4 linked regions of the Homo sapiens genome follow. The protein of the gene in region 1 purifies or fractionates together with the protein of each later gene. This does not show direct contact. Each region holds a gene or a part of one and is shown on either strand. Other genes may lie near its edges. The genes, in order: IRGC, OMA1, FBXL18 and PI4K2A.

Region 1 (8,204 bases):
AATTTTTTTTAATCATGGAGAGACCAGGATTCTTCCCAATCACAGACACGCCAGATGTCTCAACACCATGTGCCTTCCTGCTCTGAGACACACCCGCCCTCCTTCTGGAGTAAGACTCATGCTAGGCCACGGAGTTGCATCGTCGGCCTCCTCTCTCCTCCGATGTTCATGGAAACATCCAGTCACTCTCTCACCATGCCATTCTCTGTCTTCTCAAGCACCACACGGAGGTGAGCCCTGTGGCCGCCTGGCCTCCCTCTCCCTGCCACCCCCTACCCCTCCATGGCTCCCAGGCAGCAGGCAGGCACGGATGCCCACTCTCCCCAACCTGTTTAGCCATTGCTGGACACCACTGTGCTCATCCCAGGCCCCTGGGGCTGTCTTTGGTACACTGGGTTCTCAGACACGGACATGAGATTGAAACTAAAGTACCTTAGCAGGGGCCAGGTGCAGTGGCTCACGCCTGTAATCCCAGCACTTTGAGAGGCCAAGGTCAGGAGTTCAAGACCAGCCTGGCCAACATGGTGAAACCCCCTCTCTACCAAAAATACAAAAATTAGCTGGACGTGTTGGCGTGTGCCTGTAATCCCAGCTACTTGGGAGGCTGAGGCAGGAGAATTGCTTGAACTCGGGAGGTGGAGGTTGCAATGAGCCAAGATTGTGCCACAGCACTCTAGCCTGGGCTCTGAGTCTCGAAAAAAAAAAAAAAATTAGCTGGGCTTGGTGGTGCTCACCTATAATCCCAGCTACTTAGGAGGCTGAGGCAGGAGAATTGCTTGAACCTGGGAGGCAGAAGCTGCAATGAGCCGAGATCGGGCCACTGCACTCCAGCCTGGGTGACAGAGCAAGATTCCATCTCAAAAAATAATAATAATAAAATAAAATAAAATAGAAAGCACCTTAGCAGGATGCAATCTCCTGTCTTGGCCCTGCTGTCCTGTGCCCCACAAATTCCTCCTGGCCACTTGGGGACCAGGGAGAAAGACACCACCAGGGAACCCTGGGCCCACCATCCATGTCTCCAACCTCCCTCTCCAGGGCACTCCTGTCCCCTTTCACTACACCCCTGTTGGCCCTGGGCCCACCTGCCTCCCTCCTCCCCTCCCCAGTGCCCCCTCCTTTGCCCTGCCCAGGACGCCGGCTCCCCTGCCTGCCAGGGACACAGGCTCCCTCCACACCCACCCCCCAGGCAACTGCAGCCCTCACATTCACCACATCGGCCTTTTTTGTTGGTAATTTGGATTTTGTTAAGACTTAGTTTGTGGGTGAGGCAGGGGGGCGGGGCTGCACTCTTTATTTCTCTTCTGAGTCGTGTTTCTTCCAGCTGTCCAGAATGTACTTAAGAAGGAGGCCGAGCTTCCTGCAGGTTGAGAGTGGGGCTTCCTCCCCACCTCCCTCCCCGGAGCCCCCCTTTTCCACGCCATTGTCACTGGCCACTTCCAAGCTGACCTCCGGCTGCGGCTCGTCATCCTCCAGGGCCTTGATGCGGACACGCTGGGCGTCCTCAGCCATCTCGTTGAGGCAGCCCTGGAGCATGGTGTAGACAGCGCCAAAGCTGATGCCGCCAGCCACCAGCGTCCCAAACACAGGGATGCCCCTCTCAAAGGCGCGGGCCACCCGCATGGCGCCGTCGGACGACTGGGAATAGAGCCGCAGGACAGTCTCAGGCGAGACCTCGTTGGCCAGTGGGGAGCGGATGACCGAGCGCAGGTCACCTGCCTGTTTGCCCACCTGCTCGGCCAGCTTGGCCAGCGAGTCGTCGTCCAGACCAAAGCTGCGGTGGTAGCCACGCAGTGAGTGGATGAGCAACGCATCATCGTAGGCGGCCGCCAGCCCTGGGACCGGCAGGGCCTGGATGACGCCCAACACCAGGGCGGTCTTGAGGACTTGCTCTTGAAGCATGGCCTTCTTCTTCTGCAAGGCCTCCAGCGAGATGTCGGGGAGCGACAGCAGGCCAGCGTGGCGCCGGTGGGAGGGCAGGTCGTGCTCCCAGGTGGACACCAGCGTGGGAAAGTCGTAGCGGGCCGGCGAGAGGTTGGACACCAGGAAGATGCGAGGGTCAGCCACGCCGGCCTCCCGCAGCCGCTCGGCACAGTGGTCTCGGATCTCCTGCAGGACAGCGGCCTCTCTGAAGCCCGACGGCCGCTGGGTGCGCGTGGCCGCCAGGTCCTCGTCCACCTTGGTGCGCACAAAGTAGAACTTCTTGCCCTGGCACAGGATCTCAGCGGCCAGGCGGGTCTCGACGGCCCCGCAGCGGCGGGGGGAGACCAGCAGGAAGAAGTCATAGCGGCTGAAGTCTACCTGCTTTAGGTACTTGTCAGCCGGGCAGCCTGGAGAGCCGGCTCCTGGCAGGTCCCAGAGGGTCACGTCAGGGAACTGTGGGTGTGGATAGGGCGACGGTTGCATCGTGGTCTCCATGACGCCCGTGAGAGCCGCGCCAGGGTCCTCGGCCTCCAGGCCACGCAGGGCATTGATGAGGGAGGACTTGCCCGCGCCCGACTCGCCCGTGACGCCCACCTCCAGGCGGATGCTTTCCGTGGAGGCCAGCAGCTCCTGGAGGTGAGAGGCGGCCTGGGGGAGGTCACCCGACTCAAAGGCTGTGCGCAGGGCCTCCAGCCTTTCCTTGGCCATAAGGATGGTGTTTTCCTCCTCCCCAGGCACCACGGGCAACTTTGAAGTAGCCATGGTGGCCAGTGGTTCAGAGGGTGGCGGGGGACAGGGGAGAGTCACAGGATGCGTGATCCTCAGCGCCTGCAGAGGAGAAGGGAGCCATTCACACCTCCTGGGCCTTGGCATGGGGCAGGGAGAGACAGATACCACGGATGTGAAGGGAGTCGCCCTGGAAGCCCACAGCTCTCTTTTTCCTTCAAGAATTGGGGACACATTTTTGGCACAAGTTAGAGGGCTTTGGGGTCTGGCAGGCCCAGGTTCACATCCCTTTTCTGCCACTAACTTGCTGTGTGACCAGGGGCAAAATGAAGCACCTCTCTGGGTAATGGGCATGACCACCAAGCAGCCTCTTGGAGCACTATTGGAGTCTCCAGGGTAACCTAGGCACAGGTCAGTTTTCTGGGTGTATGTGTGCCCTGGAGGGTTCTGTGCTTAGAATGGCCCAGTGCTTGGTTTAATGCTCTGCTGACACTAGCTGAAATTGTTTGTTTGTTTGTTTGTTTGTTTGAGACAGGGTCTCTCTGTCATCGAGGCTGGAGCACAGTGCTACGATCATGGCTCATTGCAGCCTTGATCTCCTTGGCTCTAGCAATCCTCCCACCTCAGCCTCCTGAACAGCTGGGACCACAGGCGCATGCCACCATGCCCAGCTACTTTTTAAATTTTTTGTAGAGATGGGAGTCTCACTATGTTGTCCCAGCTGGTCTTGAACTTCCGAGATCAAGGTCCTCCTGCCTCAGCTTCCCAGAGCGCTGGGATTAAGGGCATGAGCCACTATGCCTGGCCTGAAATTCTTTATAATATTTGAACCAGGGGCCCCATATTTTCATTTCGTACTGGGCCTTGCAAATTATATAGCCAGGGCAAATTACATAGCCAGGGCTGCATAGGAAAGGGTGGTACAGGCCCATTCAGAGGAAACAGCTGCACTCCTGCGGTGGCTGGGATTGGAGGGTAGGGTGGAGGGGACCCAGACCCGGAGCCAGACTGCCTGGGATCAAATCCTGGCTCCACCACATACTTACTGAGTGATGTGAGGCAAGTTACTTAACTCTCTCCTCACTCTCCTCATCTGAACACTGAGAATGATACCTACAATCCTGGCAAACCACCTCCTAGGATCTCTGTGACTTGAATGAGTTATGACATAAAGCAGCCCATAAAACGGCGCCTGGCTCAGGGCAGGTGCCTCGTGTCATTGGCATCACCATCATCGTCATTATTCTTATCATTAGTAATATTCTTAGCTGTGTGACTTTGAGCAAGTCCTCGCCCTGTCTGAGCCTCAGCTGCCCCGTGGGGGATACTCCTCCCCACCTCGCAGGGCTGCTGTGATGCCCACAAACCCCGTTCAGCTAGCCCTAGGCTGACTTTGGGTTCAGACGCCCTTGGGTTCGGGAAGCCAGACATGGGGACCACCTGGACACCAGGAGTCATTTCCATGAAACCCCACCCCTGCCATGGCAGCCCTTGCCTCCCGGGGTTCAGTTCCCCTCCCACCGCCCAGAGCTCCTGTCGTGATGGTCCCCCCTCAGATCCCTCCTCCTCACCAGGAGCTTCCCTGGTCCTCCCTCTTCCCACTCACCCTCCTCTGGCCCATCATCTCTAAAATACATTTACTCACTAAGGGTCTTCAGGGTGCCCTGGGAGAGCTGCTCATGTCTGGGATCACTGTCCCCATTTGACAGGGAGAAGGACTGAGGCTCAGACAAGACAAATGAGGTCTCCTCATCCAGAGGCATAGCCAGGACCCCAACCCAGGTCCCCAGGCTCCTTCACCCACCTAGAGAGCTACTCTCCCTTCAGCTGCATGTCCCTGCCTCCTGCATTGTCTCCTTGCCCCCTGCACCCCGTCTCTTCACCTCCTACCACTCACCCCATCCTCTGCTACCCCACTCCACCCCCCACAGAAATATGTCCTTAAGACATTGTTCCCGGCTGGGCATGGTGGCTCACGCCTGTAATCCTAGCACTTTGGGAGGCCGAGGTGGGTGGATCACTTGAGGTCAGGAGTTCGAGACCAGCCTGGCCAACATGGTGAAACTCCATCTCCACTAAAAATACAAAAATTAGCCAGGTGTTGTGGCGCATGCCTGTAGTCCCAGCTCTTGAACCCAGGAGGCGGAGGTTGCAGTGAGCCAAGATTGCACCACTGCACTCCAGCCTGGGCGACAGAGCGAGACTCCGTCTCAGAAAAAAAAAAAGGAAAAAAAAAAGACATTGTTGCCTCCAGATCTGAGCCTCCTATCCTGGGTGTGCCCTCTCCCTAGTATGGTCTGCGGTGGGAAGAGTAGGAACCTGGAACAGGTCCTGGCAGCAAGGGGCAGACAAGTCAGTGGTTGGAATTTGGGCTGAGGGGGTCCGGATTAGACCATAAGCTCCTGCTCCGCCCACGCACAGGGGCCCAGCGAGAGAGCCCTGGGGGACTCACCTGCCCTGCAGGCTCTCCCTCTCCCCTCACACTCTCCCCACTGATAGGATCTCCTTCCCTCTTAGCCAAGGTCAGACACCGTTGCTAGGACCCATTATCATAGCAAGCAGCAGCTTATTGGTCAGCCAGACCTGGTGCAATAATGCGACAGTGATGTCAGGGGGTGGGGCCCGGAGGTGGAGCAGGGACCCCAAGCCCCAGCTGCTCATGGGGTCACCACCCACTCACACTGGGCCCTCCAGTTCCCCTGAAGACTCCAGAGAGATCTTTCTAACACCAAGACCTGTTCAAAATCCTCCATGGTCTCCATCACCCCCCAAGGACAAAGTCTCAGATTCACAGATTGGTTTCCAAGGGCTTGGCCCTGCTACCACTCCACCCTCCACCCAGGGGACTGTCAGTTCCCCAGAGAAGTGTGAAAGTTGATGATACAAATTCGGTCATTGCTGGTGGGCACAGTGGCTCACGCCTGTAATGCCAGCACTTTGGGAGGCCGAGGCGAGTGCATCACTTGAGGCCAGGAGTTTGAGATCAGCCTGGGCAATGTGGTGAAACTCCATCTCTACTAAAAATACAAAAATTAGCCAGATGTGGTGCATGCATGTAGTCCCAGCTACTCGGGAGGCTGATCTGCTATCTTGTAAGCCCAATAATTTAGTCATTGATTTCTTTTTTTTCTTTTTTTGAAACAGTGTCTTGCTCTGTCACCCAGGCTGGAGTGCAGTGACACAATCTTGGCTCACTGCAACCTCCGCCTCCTGGGTTCAAGTGATTCTCCTGCTTCAGCCTCCTGAGTAGCTGGGACTACTAGCATGCACCACCAGGCTTGGCTAATTTTTTTTTTTTTTTTTTTTTTTTAGTAGAGGTGGGGTTTCACCATGTTGCCTAGGCTGGTCTTGAACTCCTGACCTCAGGTTATCCGCCTGCCTCGCCTCCCAAACCTCCTGACCTCAGGTTATGCCGCCTCCCAAAGCGCTAAGATTACAGGTGTAGCCACTACACCCGGCCCCTTCTTGTCCTTTATAAGTGTCTCTGTCCTGTCTCCCCTCCGGGCTTCCTCTCTGCCCAGGCCAGGCTCCACAGGGCCTTCTCCATTCTCCTCTTGTAGGGAATTTACAATAACGCTACTCAGAGGATTTTCCTGACCATCTGCAGGCCAGTTCTGGAAAGGAGCCTCTGAGAACAACTAAGGAGAGAGAGGCCCAGAAGGGGAATAGACTAGCTCAGAGCCACCCTGAGAGCTGGGGAAGAGTGGGCTGTTGGCCGCATAGTACAGAGTTCTTAAGCCACAGGTGAAAGGGAGGTGCAGGGCAAAAGACACACGACTCACTCATGCTCTCACTGACTGACACAAACACACAGAGCTGAAGAGAGTGAACAACATGGTTCTCAGACTTCCCCGGACACCGAGCACACAGACCAGCAGACAGCAAGGACTCCTTCCCAAAATGCATGGACACGCACCCCTGGCCCAAGAGAGAAGGGAAAGACACAGAAAGAGCCTCAAATACAGAGTTACTTCGTGGCTGGGCATGGCGGCTCACTCACGCCTGTAATCTCAGCAATTTGGGAGGCCGAGGTAGGAGGTTTGCTTGAGCCCAGGAGGTTGAGACCAGCCTGGGCAACATAGCAAGACCCTATCTCTTTTTTTTTTTTTTTTTTTTGAGACGGAGTCTCGCTCTGTCTCCCACGCTGGAGTGCAGTGGTGCAATCTCGGCTCACTGCAAGCTCCGCCTCCCGGGTTCCTGCCATTCTCCTGCCTCAGCCTCCCGAGTAGCTGGGACTACAGGCGCCTGCCACCGCGCCTGGCTAAATTTTTTTGTATTTTTTAGTAGAGACGGGGTTTCACCGTGTTAGCCAGGATGGTCTCGATCTCCTGACCTCGTGATCCGCCCACCTCGGACTCCCAAAGTGCTGGGATTACAGGCGTGAGCCACCGTGCCTGGCCAAGACCCTATCTCTTAAAAAAAAAAAAAAAATGAGCCAGGTATGATGGTGCACATCTGTAGTCCCAGCTACTCAGGAGGCTGAGGTGGGAGGATTGCTTGAGCCCAGGAGTTCAAGGCTGCAGTGAGCCGTGATCATGCTACTGCACTCCAGCCTGGGTGACTGAGCAAGATTCTGTCTCTAAACGAAACAAAACAACAGAGTCACTGAAGGAAAGCAAGACTCAGACAAACACACACTTACCAAAGCCTCGCAAACACACACATTCCGGGACACAGATGTGCAGACTTTAAGAGACACAGTTACACACTGACAACATATACAGAAACCCCGAAACCCACTGACTCCATTCAGGAACCTCATTCATTCTGCTGCAGCAGCTAGGGCTCCAGAGATGCATCAAACCCAGGCACTGCTTCAGGGGCTCCAGGCCCGAGAAAATGGAGATTATTGCAGCCCAGGATGATTGTGGACCAAGAAAGAGAGCCACTGCCACCTGCACACATGCACCGATGCAGACTGGCATGTTCCCAGGGATGCCCCTAGCAGCTCCTGAGAGCACCAGCCAGAGAGAGAGGGGTTGCACCCTGCCTATCTGCATGCTGGAAACGCAGCAATGGACAAGACAGCCAGGCTCTGCCCCCACAGGACTCAGAGTCCAGTGGTGGAGTCAGATCCATCCCAAGATAATGATGACAGAGGGGGCAGCACTGGGATGGGGGACCCCAGAGGGCTGTGGGAGCACAAAGGAGGAAGCCCGACTCAGCCTGGGAGTCAGGGAGGGCTTCCTGGAGGAGGGGGCACCTGACCTGAGATCCAAAGGATGAGTAGGAGTGAGCCAGATGGCACATTAGGGAGTTGCATCCCAGGCTAAGGGACCAGCCTCTGCAAAGAACCTGAGTTGAGAGAGAACTTTCATTCGTTCAATAATAAACTCAATTTCAGGCACACCTCATTTTATTGCATGCAGCTTTATTGTCCTTCACAGATACTATGTGGTATTTTTTGCGGGGGGGCGGGGATGTGGTGGAGAAGAGGGTCTTGTTCTGCCACCCAGGCTGGAGTGCAGTGGCGTGATCTCTGCTCACTGCAACCTCCACCTCCTGGGCTCAAGCAATCTCTACTACCTTTGCCTCCCAAGTAGCTGGGACCACAA
Region 2 (7,540 bases), on another chromosome or scaffold:
ATTTGGCTTGCTAGTATTTTGTTAAGAATTTTTGTATTTATGTTCATCAGGGATATTGGCCCGTAATTTTTTTTTGTAGTGTCTTTGGCATAGGTATCAGGGTAATGGCTGGCCTCATAAAATGAGTTTGGAAGTGTTTTCTCCTCCTCAATTTTTTGGAAGACTTTGAGAGTCATTGACATTAATTCTTTAAATGTTTTTGGTGGCATTCACCAGTGAGGTCATCTGGTTCTGGGCTTTTCTTTGTTGGGAGGTTTTTTATAATTGACTCAATCTCATTAGTTATAGATTTGTTCATATTTCCTATTTCTTTTTCAGTCTTAGTGGGTTGTATATTTCTTGGAGTTTATCCATTTCTTCTAGGTTATCCAGTTTGTGGGCATATAATTGTTCAGAGTAGTCTCTTATGATCCTTTGTATGGTATCAGTTACAATGGTATGCTGTAATGTGTCCTCTTTTGTTTCTGATTTTGTTCACTTAAGTCTTTTTTTTTCTTACTCTAACGACTTGTCAGTTTTGTAAATCTTTCCCCAAAAAGCTCTTAGTTTTAATTTTTTTCTATTTTTTTATTCTCTGTTTTCTTTATTTATGCTCTAATCTTTATTATTTCCCTCCTTCTGTAAACTTTGGGCTTAGTCCTTTTTTTTTTTTCTTTTTTGGTAGATCTTACAGGTATAAAGTTAGTTTATTTGCTTGCTTTCTTCTTTTTTTTTTTAATGTAGGTGTTTATCATTATAAACCATCCTCTTAGAACTGCCTTTGCTGTATCCCATCAGTTTTGTTATATTGTGTTTTCATTTTCATTTGTCTCAAAATCATTTTCTTTTTGGTTTTTTTTTCCTTGACCCATAGGCTGTTCAGGAGTATGTTGTTTAGGAGTGTGCTTCAGAATTTCTGTTTAGTACTTTTTTACATTTTCTGTGTCTTTGTTGAAATTCTCACTTTGTTCGTACATTGTTCTGACCTCTTTGAGTGTCTTTATGATGGTTATTTTGAATTCTCTTGTTAGATAAGTAATATATTTCTCTTTCATTAGGGTCAGTTTCTGAAGATTTATCTTCATCCTTTGGTACATATTTCTCTGTTTATTTTTTTCACTCTTATTGTTGATATCTACACATTAGGAAAAAACAGCAACCTCTTAGCCTTTACAGACTGTCTTTGTACAGGAGAAGATCTTCACCAGTCAGCACAGCAGAGATTCCCAGAACCTCTCAAACCTTCATGCTAGTCCAAAGTGCTGTCTTTGTTCTTAGTGGTGCCTAGGTGTCTAGGGTCCTGTCTGGTCCATCTGGTCCATATGCTGGGTCCTATCAGTGCTACAAGACAGATGAGACAGAAGCCAGTCCCTTGGACAGCCCTCAGAAATGTTAGAATGTTGGACACGTGATCTACCTCTTTCCCGAGCCCTGCCCCAGGAGAAGCTGGGCTCTGGAGTTTCTCTCCAACTCATTTCATGCTGAGCTTCAGGGAGTGGTCATGGCAACTGCTTGTGTGCTTGTTCAAACTTCTGTCACATTATCACTGGCCCCTAGATATCTAGGGCGTTTTAGATTCCATCAGTGCTACAAGGCTGGCAAGACAGAAGCCAGTTCCTAGGGCAGCTCTTAGAAAAGTTGGAATGTTAGATACACAAGCCAAGTTTTTCCTTCCCCAAGGAGTGGTGGGGAGCTGCAGGTGTTCTTATGATCATATGGTGCTGTATTGGGGGTACATAATTGCTCTCGCAGATTATGGCAAGAGGGTGTCTCCAGTCTTCTACCAGGTTTGATGTTGTTCATTTCGTACTTGTGCAGGTGCAGAAGCATTGCACCTAGTTTCAGGATTTCTCACAAAGGGAATTCGTATATTATCGTTGAATCAGTGTGTTCATGTGGGGAAGGAGGGTTTAGGGCGTCCTATTCTTCCATCTTGCTGATGTCAACCTGTTACTTATTTTTCCTAAATTGGAAAAATGTAAATAAAATACTCATTTTGGAAACAAAATTATCTGACTTTAGTGGCTCTTTGAACTGGGTTTGAGAAGTACAGACAAACTCAACACTCTTATCTTAACATTAAAGTAGATATCTCAAGTCCCCTTTTAATACTTTTAGCTTGGAATACTTTCTAGTCTGTAGGGATAATTAATTTCTTTTTCTATTTCTGCATATCAAATATTGCTTTAAAGATTCCCTTCAGCTGTGTTACTTAGAGATTGAATAGGGAAATATTTTGTCTTTTGATTAACAGTTTTAGGCTAAAAAAATTAGATAAGTATGCCTTTGGTTTGTGTAGCAGACAAACTTCATGTTAGATAATTCGTGAATTTGTAGTCCATTCAAATGTTTATCTTCCAGTTTTCAGAGGGGTTTTTTGTTTGTGTTAGAATTCTTTCAAGTCATTTTATATTTTTATGAATTATTTGAGAAGAATACTTGTTAATCTCAGCCTGTATTTTTATTGTGAATGTGATTACCTATTATTGAGGGGCATAGTCCTCTGGGTGTTTCTAATTCAGCATCAAATAATTATTTCTTTATAGATACATATGTTACATACATATTTTACACATAAGCACACACACATCTTGCATATATAGATATGTATTTATATGTGTATAAACATGAATAATATTTATGTTTGTTATATACATTTATCTTGTATATTCCTGTTTATATACATATAAACATGTATATCCATATCTGTGCAGTAGTGTATAAAGTACCTTGAATTCTTTTCAACTTAGAATACTCAGAGGTCTTAAGGAATTATATTTCTTTAAATATTGAATAAGATTTACTTGAATTTAAAATTTTTTATTTTGCTAACATTTGGAAATGCTTTAATGGTATTTGTTAAGAAATGATGTAGCATGGTTGTTGACTAGCATGCAGTGTTCTATTAATATATTTGCCTTTTGGGGTTTCACAATTACACTATTATAAATCTTTTTGAGAGTACATTTTAGTCAGTATAGTATATATATTTTTTCTTAGTTTTAATCAAAAATAAAATCATTGGGAAATATAACCACTTGTTTTCCAGTTACTTATTATAGAAAGAATAAGTTAAGAAATGTGAATAAATTGAACAAATTAATAAAATATTTGTTAATAATCCACCTTATGGAGGATTTAAAAATAATTTTAATTATAAAATAATGTATTTTAATATAGTTCAGAAATAAAAGTGTTGCTCCCTCTCCACTATCAGATACCTCAGGTACATTCTTAGGGTAGTTAACAGCTTCTTAAATAGCTTCTCAGATATGTTCTGTGCATATACAAGTATATACGTATGAGTATGTATATGAGTGTATGATGGAATTGTACATACACAAGATCTACATATATTCTTTTAAAAAGTACTAATGTACTTTTATATTGTACTTTTATAAGGTATTGTGTTTTATAAGGTATATGAATTAAATATATTGTCCATATACATTGAGAAAATTGGGTAAATTGATGTGCATAATAAACATGTCATCTCTTTATGTTTATTTGAAGTTTTTTTCTGATTGTTCTAGTGGCATAGAAGTAAAGTTTCTTTAATACAGTTTAATAACATTATATTTTAAAACTTTATGAAAACAGAATTTTTAATTTGTGTAAAAGATTTTACCCTTAATACATGTTCTTAATATCCATCATACTGAAAATAGTGGGCTATCTTTGGTTAGCAGGGTTATTGTGAATGTTGTATATGGGAAGGGCAGGCATTCTGTTATTTCAGTACTGTGATACCATGTTGTTTGAGGTGGGTCTTTTTCTAAGCAATGGGCATGTTCTACTTTTATTAAAGTGATGATAGAAAATGACTTTAAAGCATGTAGTGACATAAAGTTGTTAGGAGATATAACTAATGCTAAATGACGAGTTAATGGGTACAGCACACCAACATGGCACATGTATACGTATGTAACAAACCTGCACGTTGTGCACATGTACCCTAAAACTTAAAGTATAATTATAATAGAATTAAAAAAAAATAAAGTAGTAGTTTTTAAAAAATCCTCAAAACTGAGCTCATTGTGTGGTTTTACTAATTTTGGTTTTAGGCTTGTGCAGACATAAGAGCCAGTTCAGTGTTTTGGCAGCAAATGGAGTTCGTTGATAGCCTGCATGGCCAACCCAAGATGCCAGAATGGTTATCTACACACCCTTCTCATGGCAATCGAGTTGAGTACTTGGATAGACTTATACCTCAGGTGAGCTGACACCGTAGAAGGCGGGACATTATTTTTACTGTATCATTTATTTTTAATGCTGTCACTTCTTTTGCTTAGTAAAAGAGAGTTCTAGCCTATTAACTATTTTGATTACTATAATTATGGATTATCAGTTGTCACAGAATTTGACTGAAAAGCAAAATTCTGCTTGTCCACAAGTCTTGGAGAATAAATTACTATGTACAGTTGACTTTTCTTAATAGTGAAGGTTTAACTCCTTTAGTATGAGACTTTAATTTTAACTGACTTGATGAAAGTTTAAAACTCAAGGCATATTAAGTTTTTTAAACATGTTGATGATAATTTAATCTTTCCTTGGTGATTTAAGCTTTTTGTTAAAAATACCAGTTAATGAGTTGTACAGAAGTTTTGGGTCAAGTGGATATTAATTGTAGTAGTGGTACTGGAATTTGTTTTTTTAGGAAAAAAAATCTTCATGTTTGTTTCTGGTTATTTATTTCTTTATGAAGATAAGAGTGAAGCATTTGCTCTCTGGCTTTTCTTTCTGTAGAATTCATAAGTGGGTCAAGCTGAGGCGGCTTTCTGCCAAGTAGTTTTCAGTATCCTCTGAAAATCTTTTGATTTGTTGACATCATTCAGAATGTTTTTATGGTTTCCATATCAGGACAAAATGGATGTTAGGCATCTCTGAGCCACGTTACACGCTCTCTTCTATCTCACTTGTATTAAATTTGGTGGCTTGTTATGAAAGCGGAACATTTTTTAGCAATTTAAGAATTGGTACTGGGCCATGTGCTAAGGCATAGCACAACAGATCCAGGTGTATTATAGAAGTATCTTTCTCATGCCTGTTATCCCAGCATTTTGGGAGGCTGAGGTGGGTGGATCACCTGAGGTCAGGAGTTCGAGACCAGCCTGGCCAACGGGGTGAAACCCTGTCTCTACTGAAAATACAAAATTAGGCGGGCGTGGTGGCATGCGCCTGTAATCCCAGCTACTCGGGAGATTGAGGCAGGGGAATCGCTTGAACCCTGGAGGCAGAAGTTGTAGTGAGCCGAGATCGTGCCACTGCACTCTAGTCAGCGACAGGGTGAGACTCTGTCTCAAAAAAAAAAAAGAAGTATCTTTCAGTATGACTTCAAATTCAGCCCAACAAATACGGAGTACCTCTTAAAAGAAAGAAATGATGCTAGATGTGGGGGATACAAAGAGGAATAAGATATGGTTCTTGATATTTACAGGATGCTAAGATAAATAAAAAATGATTATTAGTACAAGGATATGATTTATCATAAGAAAAATAAAAACGGTATGCAGTTTGAAGGAAGATGAATCTGCTTCTAGTTTGGGATAAGAAACTCTAGTGCAAGATTTATTCATTCATTAGGTAGATCGATATTTATTGATACTTATTGATTAATCTACTATTCTGTGTTCTATTGCTGGGGAATGAGCAAGGAACAAAACAGTCTGTTTTCTTGGAGTTAACATTCTAGTTAGGTAATGCAAATAAGAAACAAACATATAGTATGCCAAGCAATAATAAGTACCTTGGGAAAAAATAAAGCAGATTAAAGGTATTAGAGAGGGGTGGGCAGCAGAGAAGGGGTACTAGTCTATGTTCGGTTGTCAAGGAAGGCCTCACTAATCAGAATCCGGAAGGAAGCACGGGAGCAAGTCCTTTAGCTGTGTGGAGGGAGAGAGAGCCTTTTAGGCTGAGGAAGCAGCTGATGCAGAGAACCTAAAGTCAGCGTATGTTTGATGTGTTCAAGGAATAGCAAGGAAGACATTGGGGCTGAATGGAGTAAGGGAAGGGAAGAACAGTTCAAGATGAGGTGAAAGGGGACCAGACCACGCAGGATCTTCTAAGCCATTGTAAGGACTTGACTTTCACTTCAAGTGATAGGAGAAGCTAGTTGAGGATATTGAGCAGAGGAGTGACTTGATTTGACTCATGTTTTATTGTGATCACTGGCATTATTGTGTGGAGTAGACTAGTGGGGCAACGGTGGAGTCAGGGAGACTTTTTAGGAGACTCTCATAATCCTGGTAGGAGATGATGGTGGCTTGGACCAAGATATCTGGTAGCAGAAAATGGGGAAAGAATCAGTCAGATTCTGGATATATTTTGAAAGGAGTGATGACAGGATTTGTTGGTAATTTAGGCATACTTCGTGCCTTTTGTGAGCATTGAGGACAGCCAAGCATGGCTTCTTAACACCTATTTTAGTTTGTTCAGGTTGCAATAATAAAAATACCATAGACTGGGTGGCTTATAAACAACAGAAACTTACTTCTCACAGTTTGGAAGGCTGTGAAATCTTAGATCCAATTTCCAACAGATTTGGTGTCTGGTGAGGGCCCACTTCCCAGCTCATAAACAGCCATCTTCTCCTTGTAACCTCACATGGTAGAAGGGGCAAGGGAGCTCTCAAAAGCCTCTTTTATAAAAGGGTGCTAACCCATTCATGAGGGCTCCACCCTTATGACAATCGCCTCCCAAAGGCGCTTACCTCCTGATACCATCACATTGGGAGTTGGAATTTCAACATATAAATTTTGACAGGACACAGACATTCACTCTATATCAGCAGCTATCTTAACTAGATTTCATTTGTATTCTTAATTTGAAAAAAAAATTTGAGAAAGAAATAGCAGTGAAATTTACCTGATATAATATGTAGTAATTATTCCTCTTAAAAGGGTAGTATAGGCATGGGACATTATGTATTTCTTCAGTAACTGACTTGTACTGAGGATCACTGACTATAAGAGGGTCCTTTGTGCTATCCAAGGCCCCTGGGACTTTATCGCACCCTGGGAGGCCTGGGCCTGTCTCTAAAGCAATGATAACAATATGATTTTCTCTTGAATTTTTTTTCTTTTTATTTTCGCTCAATGAAATTCTAAAAATATGTGGTTTGTTTAATTGGATAATAAATTCTGTTAGCCAACTTTTCATGTGAAGACTCCTAAATTCTGAGTTGTCATTTCATCATCAAATTACTGAGCATCTTCGGAGAGGTAAAAACTGTGCTTTAGAGATGTCTTTAAAATAATAATGAATTGATTAGTGAGTAGGAAGAAAAATGGCTAGAGAAACAAATTTTATTTGGGAGCAAATGATGAAGACAAAGACGTGAGACATTTTTCTTCTAAAAATAAACTATCCTAGTTCAGAAACTTAATTTGAAAACCTCATATAATTTCTTATATTCCCCACCCCAAGTGATTAAATTCAATTTGAAAGTAATAAAACTCTATTGCAATATTGGGAATAACTCAGTGGTTGAAGTGAAACTGATAGTACAAGGGTATATTGTTAATTAGAATATACAGTCATAACTCAAAGATTGGAATTCCCT
Region 3 (5,252 bases), on another chromosome or scaffold:
TGCCACCGTCCTGGGTGCCGTGCCCCAGGCGGCGTGCTGTGGGAGCCTAGGAAGCTTTAGACGTGCCAGGCCCGCTGCCTGACCAGTCACTCCCGTGGGCCTGCCACATCCTGAACACCTGTGACAGGTGACTTCCTCCGGGGCGGAAGAATGTGGATGTGGTTATCTCGTGGAAAAAAGGTTTTTTTTCCACGCTCTGCAGACTTGGTTTTTAACCCCAGAGGCTCGGGGCGATCTGGGGCGGGTAGCACGGAGCCGCATCGCCACCTAGTGACCACACGACGGCACCGTCCTTGCCCAACGCCCCGTTTCCATCTCCTGCTGTCTGGAGCCTCCTGCTTTTGCTTTGGAGAGAAATCCAGAGGTGACTTTGCAGCTCAGCAGGTGCGGCGCCTGCACCGTCTTTTTTACCCCTTCCCGTTTCCCACCTTCCGGTCTGCAAAGGGTTGTTTACTTTAGGATTTTTTTAGGGAGAGGTGGTATTTAAAATATACGTAATGAAAACATTTTATTACTATCTTTAAATAAAAACAATCTGAATAGCTTAACAAAACAAATATAGAAAAATAAAGACAATTTGGATGTTTTATTTTATTATTTATTTAATTTTATTTATTTATTTTTTTGTGTGAGACAGAGTCTCGCTCTGTCACCTAGGCTGGAGTGCAGTGGTGTGATCTCAGCTCACTGCATCCTCTGCCTCCAAGCAATTCTCCTGCCTTCGCCTCCCCAGTAGCTGGGATAATGGGCATGCCCCGCCACGCCCAGCTAATTTTTTTTTTTTTTTTTGAGATGGAGTTTCACTCTTGTTGCCCAGGCTGGAGTGCAATGGTGCCATCTTGGCTCACCGCAACCTCTGCCTCCCAGGTAGAAACGATTTTCCTGCCTCAGCCTCCCGAGTAGCTGGGATTACAGGTGTGTGCCACCACGACCAGCTAATTTTGTATTTTTAGTAGAGATGGGGTTTTTCCATGTTGGTCAGGCTGGTCTCAAACTCCCGATTTCAGGTGATCTGCCCTCTTCGGCCTCCCAAAGTGCTGGGATTACAGGCATGAGCCACCGTGCCCGGCCTGCCTGGCTAATTTTTGTATTTTTAGTAGTGACAGGGTTTTGCCATGTTGGCCAGTGTCGAACTCCTGACCTCAGGTGATCCGCCTGCCTCAGCCTCCCAAGGTGCTGGGATTATAGACGTGAGCCACCGCACCTGGCTGAGAATTTCTGCTTAAATCAATTAAAAGAAAATTAACTACCAGGCATGGTGGCTCACGCCTATAATCCTAGCACTTTGGGAGGCTGAGGCAGGAGGATTGCTTGAGCTCAGGAGTTGGAGACCAGCCTGGGCAACATAGTGAGACCCCTGTCTCCACACACACACACGCACGCACGCACGCACGCACACACACACAAAAGTAAATAACCAGTCTCTCATGAGCCACACTTCCTTTATTCTTTTAAAAAAAAAATTTTGGCCAGGTGCAGTGGCCCACGCCTGTAATCCCAGCACTTTGGGAGGCTGAGGCGGGTGGAGCAAGTGGTCAGGAGATTGAGACCATCCTGGCTAACACGGTGAAACCCCATCTCTACTAAAAATACAAAAAATTAGCTGGGTGCGGTGGCAGGCGCCTGTAGTCCCAGCTACTCGGGAGGCTGAGGCAGGAGAATGGCGTGAACCCGGGAGCTTGCAATGAGCTGAGATCACGCCACTGCACTCCAGCCTGGGCAACAGATCGAGACTGTCTTGCTCTGTCATCCAGCTTGGAGTGCAGTGGCACGATCCTAGCTCACTGCAGCCTCGAAGTCCTGGGCTCAAGCGATCCTCCCACCTCAGCTTCCCGAGTAGCTGGGAGTACAGGTGCGTGCCACCATGGCTGGATAATTTTTGTACTTTTTGTAGAGCTGGGCTCTCACTATGTCGCCCAGGCTCTTCTCAAACTCCTGGGCTCAAGTGATCCTCCTGCCTTGGCCTCCTGAAGGGCTGGGATTATAAGTGTGAGCCACCATGCCCGCCGTGACTTGGTCTTTTTGTGTCACCTACCAGGGAAGAATCTCCATGCCTGTGGCGCCTTCTGCTGTGGCTGCCCTCAGCATCTGTGCTAGGATCCTGGGGCTGCCAGGACAATTGATCACAAACTGAGTGGCTTCATGCAACAGGCATTTATTGTCTCACGATTCTGGAGCCCAGAGGCCCCAAATCAGGCTATGGGCAGGGATGGTTCATTCCTTCTGAGGATGGTGAGGAGGAACTCGGGCGCCTGCCAGCCACGCCTGGCACTGCTTGGCTGGTGGACACGTGGCCCCAGTCTCTGCCTCTGTTGTGACCTGGCCGCCTTCTGTCTGTGTCTGGGTATCTCTGTGCCTTCACCTGGCCTTATAAGGAACCAGTCATTAGATTTAGAGTCCCCATCATGCAGGATGCATCCTCCTCTTAACTCCCTTGCATCCGCAACAAACCTGCCTCCAAATAAGGCCACACCCTCAGGTCCCAAGGTGAGGACTCCTGCATAGTGTGTGTGTGGGGGGGCGTCGCAGCTCAGTCCACACTAGCCCCTCCCCATTCGCCTCAGCCCGTCCCTCCAGCGGCTCCTCCCCCCACCCCGGGAGTTCCTGGCAGCCCCTGAAGTCACGTGAGTTCCCCTCCAGCCTCTCTGCTCCCTCTTGATTCTTATCTCAGGGGCTCGCTGCACCCCACAACCTGCCACAGTCCAGGTCTTGCCCAGTCCCACAGCCTGGTTCTCCAAGGGCCCCCCGGGCCTGTCCTCAGCAGCGCCACATCCCCACATCTGCCACTGTACTTCGAGACATGGCCTGTCCTTCTGCTTTCTGTCTGCATGGACAGACTCCCCAGGAAGGATCTAGAATGTCGTCCCCTACTTCCCTTTCCCAAGTCCTCCCCTTTCCCCTGGGTTCTCCCGTCTTGGTCTCTGTCACTGTAGCCTTGGTGCGGACTTGGGCCTCCCCCCTGCCCTGGCTGCCAACCTCTTAGCTTGGCCCCACTCCCCTCGGCCTCCTCCTTTGGCCCTGCAGCCATCCAGCGCTGTCCTCCCATCTGTCGTGGCTGAAGTGGCCCCCATCTGGCTGAAGTTCCTGCCCACCTTACCCCCTGCCTCCCAGATTCTCGCCCTCTCCCTCCCCCACACCAGCCTCCCGGATTACCGCCCTCTCTCATGGTGTTCAGTCCTTATCTGCCTCCCTGTCCAGCTGAGCTTCCCAAGGGCAGGGGCCATGTGTGGGGTCCTCTTTGCATCCGCTGCCCAGCACACCAGCGTTTGAGGAAGATAGGGTGCCTGGGGGTCATTGGGGTGCACCAGGCAGGCTGCGGACACAGATGCTGATGGCCTCGGCTGGTGACTTGAAGCCGGGCTCTGTAGACACTGGCTGGCTGCTTGCATCAGGCCCACCGGGTCGCCTCCAAATCAGATCTCCAAGGGGGACCCTGGGGGCCTGAGTCGGCACCCAGTACTCCAAGGGATAGTGGTATTGGTGGGAGGTGGCGGGAACAGCTGGGCTGGGCCCCAGGCCAGGAAGCTTCCACTGGCAGCACCTCCAGACGCCCAGCTGGCCTGGCCTGCGAGCCCCTCCCTCGGACCTCACAGCTGCCCTCTCTCCCCGCAGGCTGGAGCAGCCCTACTTCAGCGCCAACGCCCAGTTCTTCCAGGCGCTGAGCCAGTGCCCCTCGCTGCAGCGCCTGTGCCTGGTCTCTCGCAGCGGCACCCTCCAGCCCGATGCCGTGCTGGCCTTCATGGCTCGCTGCCTGCAGGTTGTCATGTGCCACCTGTTCACCGGGGAGTCCCTCGCCACCTGCAAGAGCCTGCAGCAGTCGCTTCTCCGCAGGTGAGTGATGTGGGTTGCGTACAGCTTCAGGGGCCGCAGAAATCACCAGCATCCCGTGACCTGGTCCCCAGCCTTCACCGAGTGCCTACCAGTGGTTTCTTGGAATTGACGAGCACCAGGCAGTGACAGGGTGAAAGCAAGGGGTTTGGTCTCCCACGGCCCAGCCTCTGCTCCTTGAGCATTCCCTAGCCACATGGTAAATTTTCTAGATAGTTCAAGCTCTCCTCTCCCACAAGTACAAAAGTCTTCTTCTTATTATTATTATTACTTTTGAGACGGAGTCTCACTGTGTTGCCCAGGCTGGAGTGTAGTGGCGAAATCTCGGCTCACTGCGACCTTCGCCTTCCGGGTTCAAGCGATTCTCCTGCCTTGGCTTCCTGAGTAGCTGGGATTACAGGCCTGCGCCACCAGCATGTATTTTGTATTTTAGTAAAGATAGGGTTTCACCATGTTGGTCAGGCTGGTCTCGAACTCCCGACCTCAGGTGATCCGCCTGCCTCGGCCTCCCAAAGTGCTGGGATTACAGGCATGAGCCACCGCACCCAGCCTGCAACCATCTTTAACTCTGGATTTTTCACATCTCTGCCCGTTGTTTGGATCTAGAAGCAGTGCTTACTTGGGCAGTTGTGGGTAAAGGCGGTAGATTGAACAGAGAACCTTTCCTTCTCCCTCTCCCTCGCCACCTGCTGTCAGGCCCTTTCTGGAAGGCCCACATAGTCTGGCCCCTCTTCCCTTAGCTAGCTAGCATCTCCGCTTCCCCTCGTGACAGGGCATCCTGGAGTTTGATGCTCTGCTGCTGCGCAGGAAGTCAGGTGAGCACCTAGAATTGAACACAAATTAGGAGGAGGCGATTCCTGGAGAGAGCTGGAGCTTGGTAGGCGATGTGGGGAGTGACGCATTTCAAGACCTCTCAGGAGGACGGGCTGACTGCTGGAGTGATCAGGGCTCCTGAGAGAGGCGTGCGCCCGGCCAAGGGGGCAGCAGGACATGAACGCCCTGAGTGTTCGTGTCCCTGCAGGTGGGGAGAGGTGACAGGAAGGAGGCCCCAGCTGTTCACAGAGTTGCGAGAAGAGCCATCAGCCAGGACGTCTCGAGCCACTGGGCGCCGACAACCCTGCTTGCCAGACTCTGGGGTAGTCTGTTGTCCTTGCGGTCGGCCGCTGGCTGTCTCAGGAATAATCCTGGTTGGGGTTTCCCCCTCTCTGGTTGTAAAAACAACTTGTGTTTATAGAGTACTTTTTAAAAATTTAGACTATGCATCAATCTTTTTTCTTGTTTGTTTGTTTGAGACAGAGTCTCACTCTGTCGTCCAGGCTGGAGTGCAGTGGCGGGATCTCAGCTCACTGCAACCTCTGCTTTCTGGGTTGCAACCTCAGCCTCCTGAGCAGCTGGGATTACAAGTGTGCACCACTATACCTGGC
Region 4 (7,540 bases), on another chromosome or scaffold:
TAAAGAGAATGAAGAGTATTTGCATAATATAGAAACACATAAAATGGTCAGAGATGTAGTTCATACAAGTTCAGAAGAATCGGGGGGCGCATATGTTTAAAATTAATAGGTTAATATTTGGTAAAGTTTTTCTCAATATGTGTTTCAAGGACATCCTACTGACACATGTTAATAGGAATAGCATGAAGAAAGGGTCAAGTAAATTTGGAACATATTATGTACTCTGTTCTTTGAGCTTCTTATTGCACAGTAGCATAGTAAAGGTCTGAGAAGTACTACGTTAAACAAACCTATTTAAATTTGATTTCTACCCCTTTTAAACCATGAACCACTTTTCTCACAACAGACCGCAAGTCCACAGAACATAAGTTTAGAAAAAGCTGCTCCTGCAACTTTCTTTCCTTTCTCATTCCTTTCATCCTCCACCATACTTCTCTATCACTGTTCAGTCTACATGTTTTACAAAATTAGCAGAAGGCTGCCTAGGGGAGAGTGAGATTGGTTTTATTTCTTTTTTCTTTTCTTTCTTTTTTTTTTTTTTAAGAAACAGGGTTGGCCGGGCATGGTGACTCACGCCTGTAATCCCAGCACTTTGGGAGGCCGAGGTGGGAGGATCACCTGAGGTCAGGAGTTCCAGCCTGGCCGACATGGTGAAACCCCGTCTCTATTAAAATGCAAAAATTAGCCGGGCATGATGGCGGGAGCTTGTATTCCTAGCTACTCGGGAGGCTGAGACTCGAGAATGGCTTGAACCTGGGAGGCTGAGGTTGCAGTGAGCCAAGATCACACCATTGCATTCCAGCCCAGACGACAGAGCAAGACTCTGTCTCAAAAATTAAAAAAAAAAAAAAAAAAAAGAGACAGGGTCTTGCTCTGTTGCGCAGGCTGGAGTACAGTGGTGCTATCCTAGCTCACAGCAGCCTTGGACTCCTGGGCTCAAAGCAGTCCTCTCACCTCAGCCTCCTGAGTAGCTGGGACTACAGGCGCAAAAGTTGTTTAATGTTTTGTAGAGATGAGGTCTTGCTATGTTGCCCAGGGTGGGGTTTTCATTCCTTATAACTTTTTTACTTTCTCTAATAGTGGCTCTCAAATTTTGTGCCTGAATCTTCTGAAGAGTTATTTAAAATAGTACACAGATTCTTCAGGCCTTTCCCTTAGAAACTGATTCATCAGGTCTGGAGTAAAACTCAGGATTCTGCACATTTAATAAGGTATCTCAGGGGATTCAGATTCAGGCATCCTGGAACCACAGTTCTTGTTCCTGTGATGGCACCCATGAACCTGAAGCATGGAGCCACATAGTCAGTGATTGTCTCTGACATGGGCTGTCACAGGTGACATGCCCACTCTTTTTACATTCATCTCTTGTCCTTTTCCTTTTCATGCACCACTGAAGCAGGAGAACAGACTCCCTTGTGCAAGAGCAGCCAGCTGTTATCTTCCGAGGCTCTGTTTTCTCACTGGAAAATGTAGTTGTCACCAGTGAAGTAACATCTGAGTCAAGGTCCACACAAAAGGACCTTGGCCAACTGATATGGATTTTATTTCTTCTGTTCTGCTTTCAGGATTCTCATTTTCTTTCCCTAGGAGGAATGGCTTATAGTTATCTTTATTATTGTCATTTCCTTCTTACCAAGGACTGTAGCAACTCTTGGGGAAGTGTACCTTTTCTAAGATAAGAACAGGACTCTTGAACTTTGAACAAGAGCCAGGTCAGAGGCACCAAAATGTGCTAAGTTCAGATAACAACATGGAAGCCAGTTCAGAGAGTAGCTCAAGATAAGTTCAATAAGAATTCTTCTCTTGAGGGAGTTGGGATGAGTTGCTTTGCTACTAATTGGAAGGGCCTGAGGGAGATGGGTTTCCTCAGTCATTAGTCTTTCCTTGCTCTTCAGGACACAGACTGGGTGGTGGTGAAGGAGCCTGTTATCAAGGTGGCTGCCATAGACAATGGGCTGGCCTTCCCACTGAAGCATCCTGACTCCTGGAGGGCATGTAAGTCTCCAGACAATGGTGGTCTGGCTCTTCCCTTGCTCAGTATATTTTCTCACTGTGCAGTGGAGATGATAATGTCTCTATCATAGGATTATTCTAAAAATTAATGAAATAATGGAGTTCAGGCACTTTAACACAATGGCTGGCATATGGCAACTATTTCATAATGTAAGCTGTTTTTCTAATTTTTGTCTTCTATGATTCCCATTACAAGCATAAAGGTGATTAGAAATTAGAAGCATAAAGATGAGTTTTCTCATTGTCTCTTTGCATTCTTCTCGTTCTTTCTGAGGACTTTTTTTTTTTGGAAATGGAGTTTCGCTCTTGTTGCCCAGGCTAGAGTGCAATGGTGCGATCTGGGCCCACTGCAACCTCCACCTCCTGGGTTCAAGCGATTCTCCTGCCTCAACCTCCCAAGTAGCTGGGATTACAGGCATGCGCCACCACGCCCGGCTAATTTTGTATTTTTAGTAGAGACGGGGTTTCACCATGTTGGCCAGGCTGTTCTTGAACTCCTGACTTCAGGTGATCTGCCTGCCTCAGCCTCCCAAAATGCTGGGATTACAGGTGTGAGCCACTGCGCCTGGCTGAGGGCTATTTATTTTTTATTTATTTATTTTTTTTTTGAGACGGAGTCTTGCCCTGTCGCCCAGGCTGGAGTGCAGTGGCGCGATCTCGGCTCACTGCAACCTCCTCCTCCTGGGTTCACACCATTCTCCTGCCTCAGCCTCCCGAGTAGCTGGGACTACAGGCACCCGCCACCATGCCCAGCTAATTTTTGTATTTTTAGTAGAGACAGGGTTTCAGTGTGTTAGCCAAGATGATCTCAATCTCCTGACCTTGTGATCCACCCGCCTTGGCCTCCCAAAGTGCTGGGATTACAGGCATGAGCCACTGCGCCCGGCCCTTTTTTAATTTTTTAATTTGTTATTTTATTGTTTTAGTGTATATTTCCTGAAATATCTTTTTTTTTCCTGTTATCTGAGGACTGTCTTTCCATAATTTATTCTAATTGTGCCTCTAAATATAAGCTTCCTATCAGTGTTCTGTCTTCCTTGTTCCATCTCCTACCCTGTTGTAACTGAGAAGCTTCTGGAAAGGAGGAGAAATAAATGTAGGGAGTCAGTAGCCCCTTTTGCAGCATTAGTCTTCCTTTTCAGAAGGACCATCTCAGCGTCTCAGTGGCAAGTAGTTGCTTCTAGACCTTGCATCTTGGAAGGTCATGTAATGTCTGAGAATGAGCTCTGACATTAGGCAGCCCTGGGTTTGAACCCTGGTTCCTCTACTGACTAGCTGTGTAACCTTTACAGTTAAGAGCACTTGTAAGTTTTTGTTTCTGTTGTATGTCAGGGAAGAGGGGTTCTCCTTTAGAAAGTGCCTTGACTGGTGGAGGACACAGATGAGCAGGGACTTTTCCAACACCAGCTTTGCCTTTGACTTTTCCTCTTTTCAGATCCTTTTTACTGGGCCTGGTTGCCCCAGGCGAAAGTCCCATTTTCTCAGGAGATCAAAGATCTGATCCTTCCAAAGATATCGGACCCTAACTTCGTCAAGGACTTGGAAGAGGACCTATATGAACTCTTCAAGGTTAGCCCTGGGAACCTCAGCCCTATTATCATATGGGAGAAGGAATTTTTAATGGTTTTTTTAATTGGTCCTGACAAAAGCCAAGAGGAAATGGCTAACACCTTTCTGACTTGAGTTAGCCAACGAATAGCAAGATTTCCACATGTGGACAGCAGGACCTGGTTTGGATGGGTTTGAGAGAAATGGGCAGGGGTGAGAAATCACACTGATGTGTCTCTCCTGTCCATCATGTGGCTGCAATGTATCTGCAGGGCTTTCATTTTAATATGGAGCACTGGAGCCTAGAGTTTGAGATGCAGAGGAAGATATTGACTTGTTTTCTGTTTCCTCATCTGTAAAGCAGGGAGTTCTTGTGGGAGTAGTTGACTTCACAAAGCTGCAGAAGCCTTATGCAGGTTTTCCTTCTTAGAAAGTTTCTAACTGGGGGAGAAAATGGGTTCCTGTGAGGCATTCACACAGGTTCCATCTCCTTCTGGTCTTCTTTTGCAGAAAGATCCTGGTTTCGACAGGGGCCAGTTCCATAAGCAGATTGCTGTCATGCGGGGCCAGGTAAGCCTGGGACATCCTCCCAGTATCTTTGGCGTCTCTGGGAGTGTTGTGTGCTCAGGTTGAGCAAATGTTTGAAGTTTGTGTTTTATACCCCCCCCTTTTTTTTTGAGACCGAGTCTCACTCTGTCACCCAGGCTAAAGTGCAGTGGCATGATCTCTGCTCACTGCAACCTCCACCTCCCAGGTTCAAGCAATTCTTGTGCCTCAGCCTCCCAAGTAGCTAGGATTACAGGCGCATGTCACAACGCCCGGCTAATTTTTGCATTTTTAGTAGAGACAGGGTTTTACCATGTTGACCAGGCTGGTCTCGAACTCCTGACCTCAAGTGATGCACCTGCCTCTGCCTCCCAGAGTGCTGGGATTACAGGCGTGAGGCCCTGCGCCCGGCCGTGTTTTACAGCTTTTTTAAGTCCGTTGTGTACATTATTTTTGGCTGTACCTTAACACCTAGGAGAGGAAAAGTGGCCCTCCCAATTCTCCCACCTCTTCCCTGGTATCCAGTGCTTGTTGAAGCACTTAATGTGCACTCATCTCTATGCTAGTTGCTAGGTAATTCATTGGTAATTAAACTAATGCTCTCTGTCCTAGAGTTGCTCAAGGCAGGCTGTATGTTTTGGTGGTTAAGATCTGGGCCCTGGAGCCAGACTGCTTCACTACTTGGAAGCTCTGTGGCCTGGGGCAAAAGCCTCTGTTTTCTTGTTCATAAAACAGGATAGTAATAATACGTTGCACAGTTGGCTGGAGAATTTCATGAGATAATGCTTATCAAGCGTTTAGTAAAAAGAGTACTGGGCACATGAAGCACTCACATATTGATTATGGTTATAATTTTGTTGTTATAGGTGCAACTTACATTATTCCTTCTCCTTCCACTTCACCTTCAAAGGGAGCTAAGGAAACCAAGGGGATTGTTGATCTTCCAAAGCATAGTAAAGAAATGCTTGAAAAATGGTTTGAAAACTCTGTAGGGTACTGGTATTATGCCTATCACTTTGAAGTCTTCTTAAAGAGAGTTGGGATGACCTAGTGGTTAAGGGTGCAAACTGTGGTCACAGTGCCTGGGTTTTTGAAGCCTGGCTCTGCCATTTACTACCTGTGAGATTTTGGGCAAGTTACTTAATCTCTCCTTCCCTTAGTTTCCTCATGTTTAATGTGGGATCAATAATAGTAGCTGAGACCAGGCATGGTGGCTCACACTTGTAATCCCAGCACTTTGAGAGGCTTAGGTGGGCAGATCACTTGAGCTAAGGAGTTGGAGACCAGCCTGGGCAACATGGTGAAACCCCATCTCTACAAAAAACACAAAAATTAGCCATGTGTGGTGGCGCACGCCTGTAATCCCAGCTACTCAGGAGGCTGAGGTGGAAGGATTGCTTGGGCCTGGGAGGTCTAGGATGCAGTGAGCTGAGATGGCACCACTGCACTCCAGTCTAGGGGACAGAGTGAGAACCTGTCTCAAGATAATAATAATGGTACCCACCTTACAGAATTATTATGAGATAAATGATTTGAAACAGTTAGAGTAGTACCTGGTATACTAAAATACTCAATTTGTAGTATTAATAGCTGTTAGGATTATGATTTTTGTATACAGAAAATTCAGCTTCTCCCATCTTTAAAGGGCAAGAGGATCTTCTCAGCCTTAATTCTGCATTTACTTCTTCCTGCCATTTATCTAAAGACCTCTGATGACAGCACCTCCTGGGTTTGCTGAGCCCATTTTTCCCTGGAAGGGGGTTGGACAGAGGTTTTTTTTTTCTTTTGAGACAGAGTCTCACTCTGTCACCCAGGCTGGAGTGCAGTGGTGCGATCTTGGCTCACTGCAACCTTCACCTCCCAGGTTCAAGTGATTCTCCTGCCTCAGCCTCCCAAGTAGCTGGGATTACAGGTGCATGGCACCACACCTGGCTAATTTTTGTATTTTTAGTAGAGATGGGGTTTCACCATGTTGGCCAGGGTGGTCTCAAACTCCTGATCTCAGGTGATCTGCCTGCCTCGGCCTCCCAAAGTGCTGGGATTACAGGAGTGAGCCACTGAGCCCGGCCTGGACAGAGGTTTTAAGAACTACAATTATTGTAGCTGTCTGAATACCAGTAACATGGTATTCCTACATTTCCCAAGTAATGTAAGGGCCCAATTAGGCTGGCAGAATTTTTGGAAGCATTAAAAGCCATGTGATAGACTCAGATGTTATGGAACTCAGCATAAAGGAGTAAACTGGCTTCTCCAGTTGATATAGGCTGTGCCTCTGTCCGTATTGCAATGTCTTATCTAATTCCATCCCAGCTCAGTCCCTTGCCAACCCTTCTCCCATTACTCAGATAGTGCCATTATTCAGGATGGTAGGGAGGTTGGGGTAGTGCAGTTTTATTTATCTCCATCTTGTGCTCCTAATGTCTTCAGAGGAGCTTTTGGTATCTTGTAACCTAAAGTGCCTACTACCTTAGGGTGACCATCCAGCTCCTTCCAACATGTACATGGCCAGTATATCACTCATGTGCTTACTTGTCTACCATTCACACATCAAAGCAAAATGTGTGCACTACAAAATTTCTGCACTACAGAAATCTGACAAAGCACAGAGAAAAGAGGTCATAACCCTGTCTACATAGCTGAGCCATTATTGCAGGATGGGCTGTAGTACAAGGGCCCTGAGATGTAGGGAAAGAGTGAAGAGGCCCCACAGGGACACAGTCAGGTGATAGAAGTTGTTACTCAACTTAAAGGCTTCTCACCGGGAGTTAAAGAATCTAGGGTCTGAGAGAAAGCCTCTGTAACATTTTCTTTTTCTTTTCTTTTTTTTAAAGACAGGGTCATGCTCTGTCACCTAGGCTGGAGTGCAGTGGCCCAATTGTAGACCACTGCAGCTTTGAACTCCTAGGTTCAAGAAGTCCTCCCCCCTCAGCCTCCTGAGTAGCTGGGACCACAGGCATGCACCACCATTTCTGGGTAATTTTTTTTAAGAGGTGGGGTCTCGCTATGTTGCCCAGGCTGGTCTCAAACTCCTGGCCTCAAGCGATCCTCCTGCCTTGGCCTCCCAAGGTGCTGAAATTATAGGCATGTGCCACCACATCCAGCCCAACATTTTCAAAGATAGTATTTATTCTTTAGTATTATGTGACTGCTATAATTTTTCTTCAAATTTAAAAAATAATTTTTCTTTTTAAATTCTTTATTCTCCTTTCTTTTCAGTCCTGGTTCCAGGCTTATCTTCAGCTTTTTAATTTGGAAATTTTCAAACCTCAGTAAAGTTGAAAGAATGGGATCTTCTAGATTCTTCAGTTGTTATATTTAACCACATTTATCTCATATGTCTACGTATTATCCAGTGATGTATCTGAATAATATCTATTTAATTTCTCTCCCTAGATATTCTTTTTTGCCAAATCTTTTGAAAATAAGTAGTAGA

The links.
Region 2: the proteins of IRGC (region 1) and OMA1 purify together in Homo sapiens (affinity purification with mass spectrometry; 2 studies listed by BioGRID and IntAct, with this or other methods). This does not show direct contact.
Region 3: the proteins of IRGC (region 1) and FBXL18 purify together in Homo sapiens (affinity purification with mass spectrometry; 2 studies listed by BioGRID and IntAct, with this or other methods). This does not show direct contact.
Region 4: the proteins of IRGC (region 1) and PI4K2A purify together in Homo sapiens (affinity purification with mass spectrometry; 2 studies listed by BioGRID and IntAct, with this or other methods). This does not show direct contact.

The regions. Positions count from the first base shown.
Region 1 is NC_000019.10:43,713,040-43,721,243, reverse strand, and holds IRGC (interferon-inducible GTPase 5), read right to left. Parts: upstream 5,169-8,204; 5' UTR 5,102-5,168; intron 4,368-5,101; exon of another isoform or gene 4,295-4,367; intron 2,865-4,294; exon of another isoform or gene 2,797-2,864; coding exon of another isoform or gene 2,686-2,796; coding exon 1,294-2,685; 3' UTR 1,223-1,293; downstream 1-1,222. UniProt on the Homo sapiens protein: Required for sperm motility and therefore male fertility, via positive regulation of spermatozoa fibrous sheath formation.
Region 2 is NC_000001.11:58,502,713-58,510,252, reverse strand, and holds part of OMA1 (metalloendopeptidase OMA1, mitochondrial precursor), read left to right. Parts: intron 1-4,043; coding exon 4,044-4,193; intron 4,194-7,540. UniProt on the Homo sapiens protein: Metalloprotease that is part of the quality control system in the inner membrane of mitochondria. Activated in response to various mitochondrial stress, leading to the proteolytic cleavage of target proteins, such as OPA1, UQCC3 and DELE1.
Region 3 is NC_000007.14:5,489,810-5,495,061, reverse strand, and holds part of FBXL18 (F-box/LRR-repeat protein 18), read left to right. Parts: intron 1-3,612; coding exon 3,613-3,831; intron 3,832-4,600; coding exon of another isoform or gene 4,601-4,655; exon of another isoform or gene 4,656-4,849; coding exon of another isoform or gene 4,850-5,252. UniProt on the Homo sapiens protein: Substrate-recognition component of the SCF (SKP1-CUL1-F-box protein)-type E3 ubiquitin ligase complex.
Region 4 is NC_000010.11:97,662,990-97,670,529, forward strand, and holds part of PI4K2A (phosphatidylinositol 4-kinase type 2-alpha), read left to right. Parts: intron 1-1,895; coding exon 1,896-1,995; intron 1,996-3,448; coding exon 3,449-3,582; intron 3,583-4,071; coding exon 4,072-4,131; intron 4,132-7,540. UniProt on the Homo sapiens protein: Membrane-bound phosphatidylinositol-4 kinase (PI4-kinase) that catalyzes the phosphorylation of phosphatidylinositol (PI) to phosphatidylinositol 4-phosphate (PI4P), a lipid that plays important roles in endocytosis, Golgi function, protein sorting and membrane trafficking and is required for prolonged survival of neurons.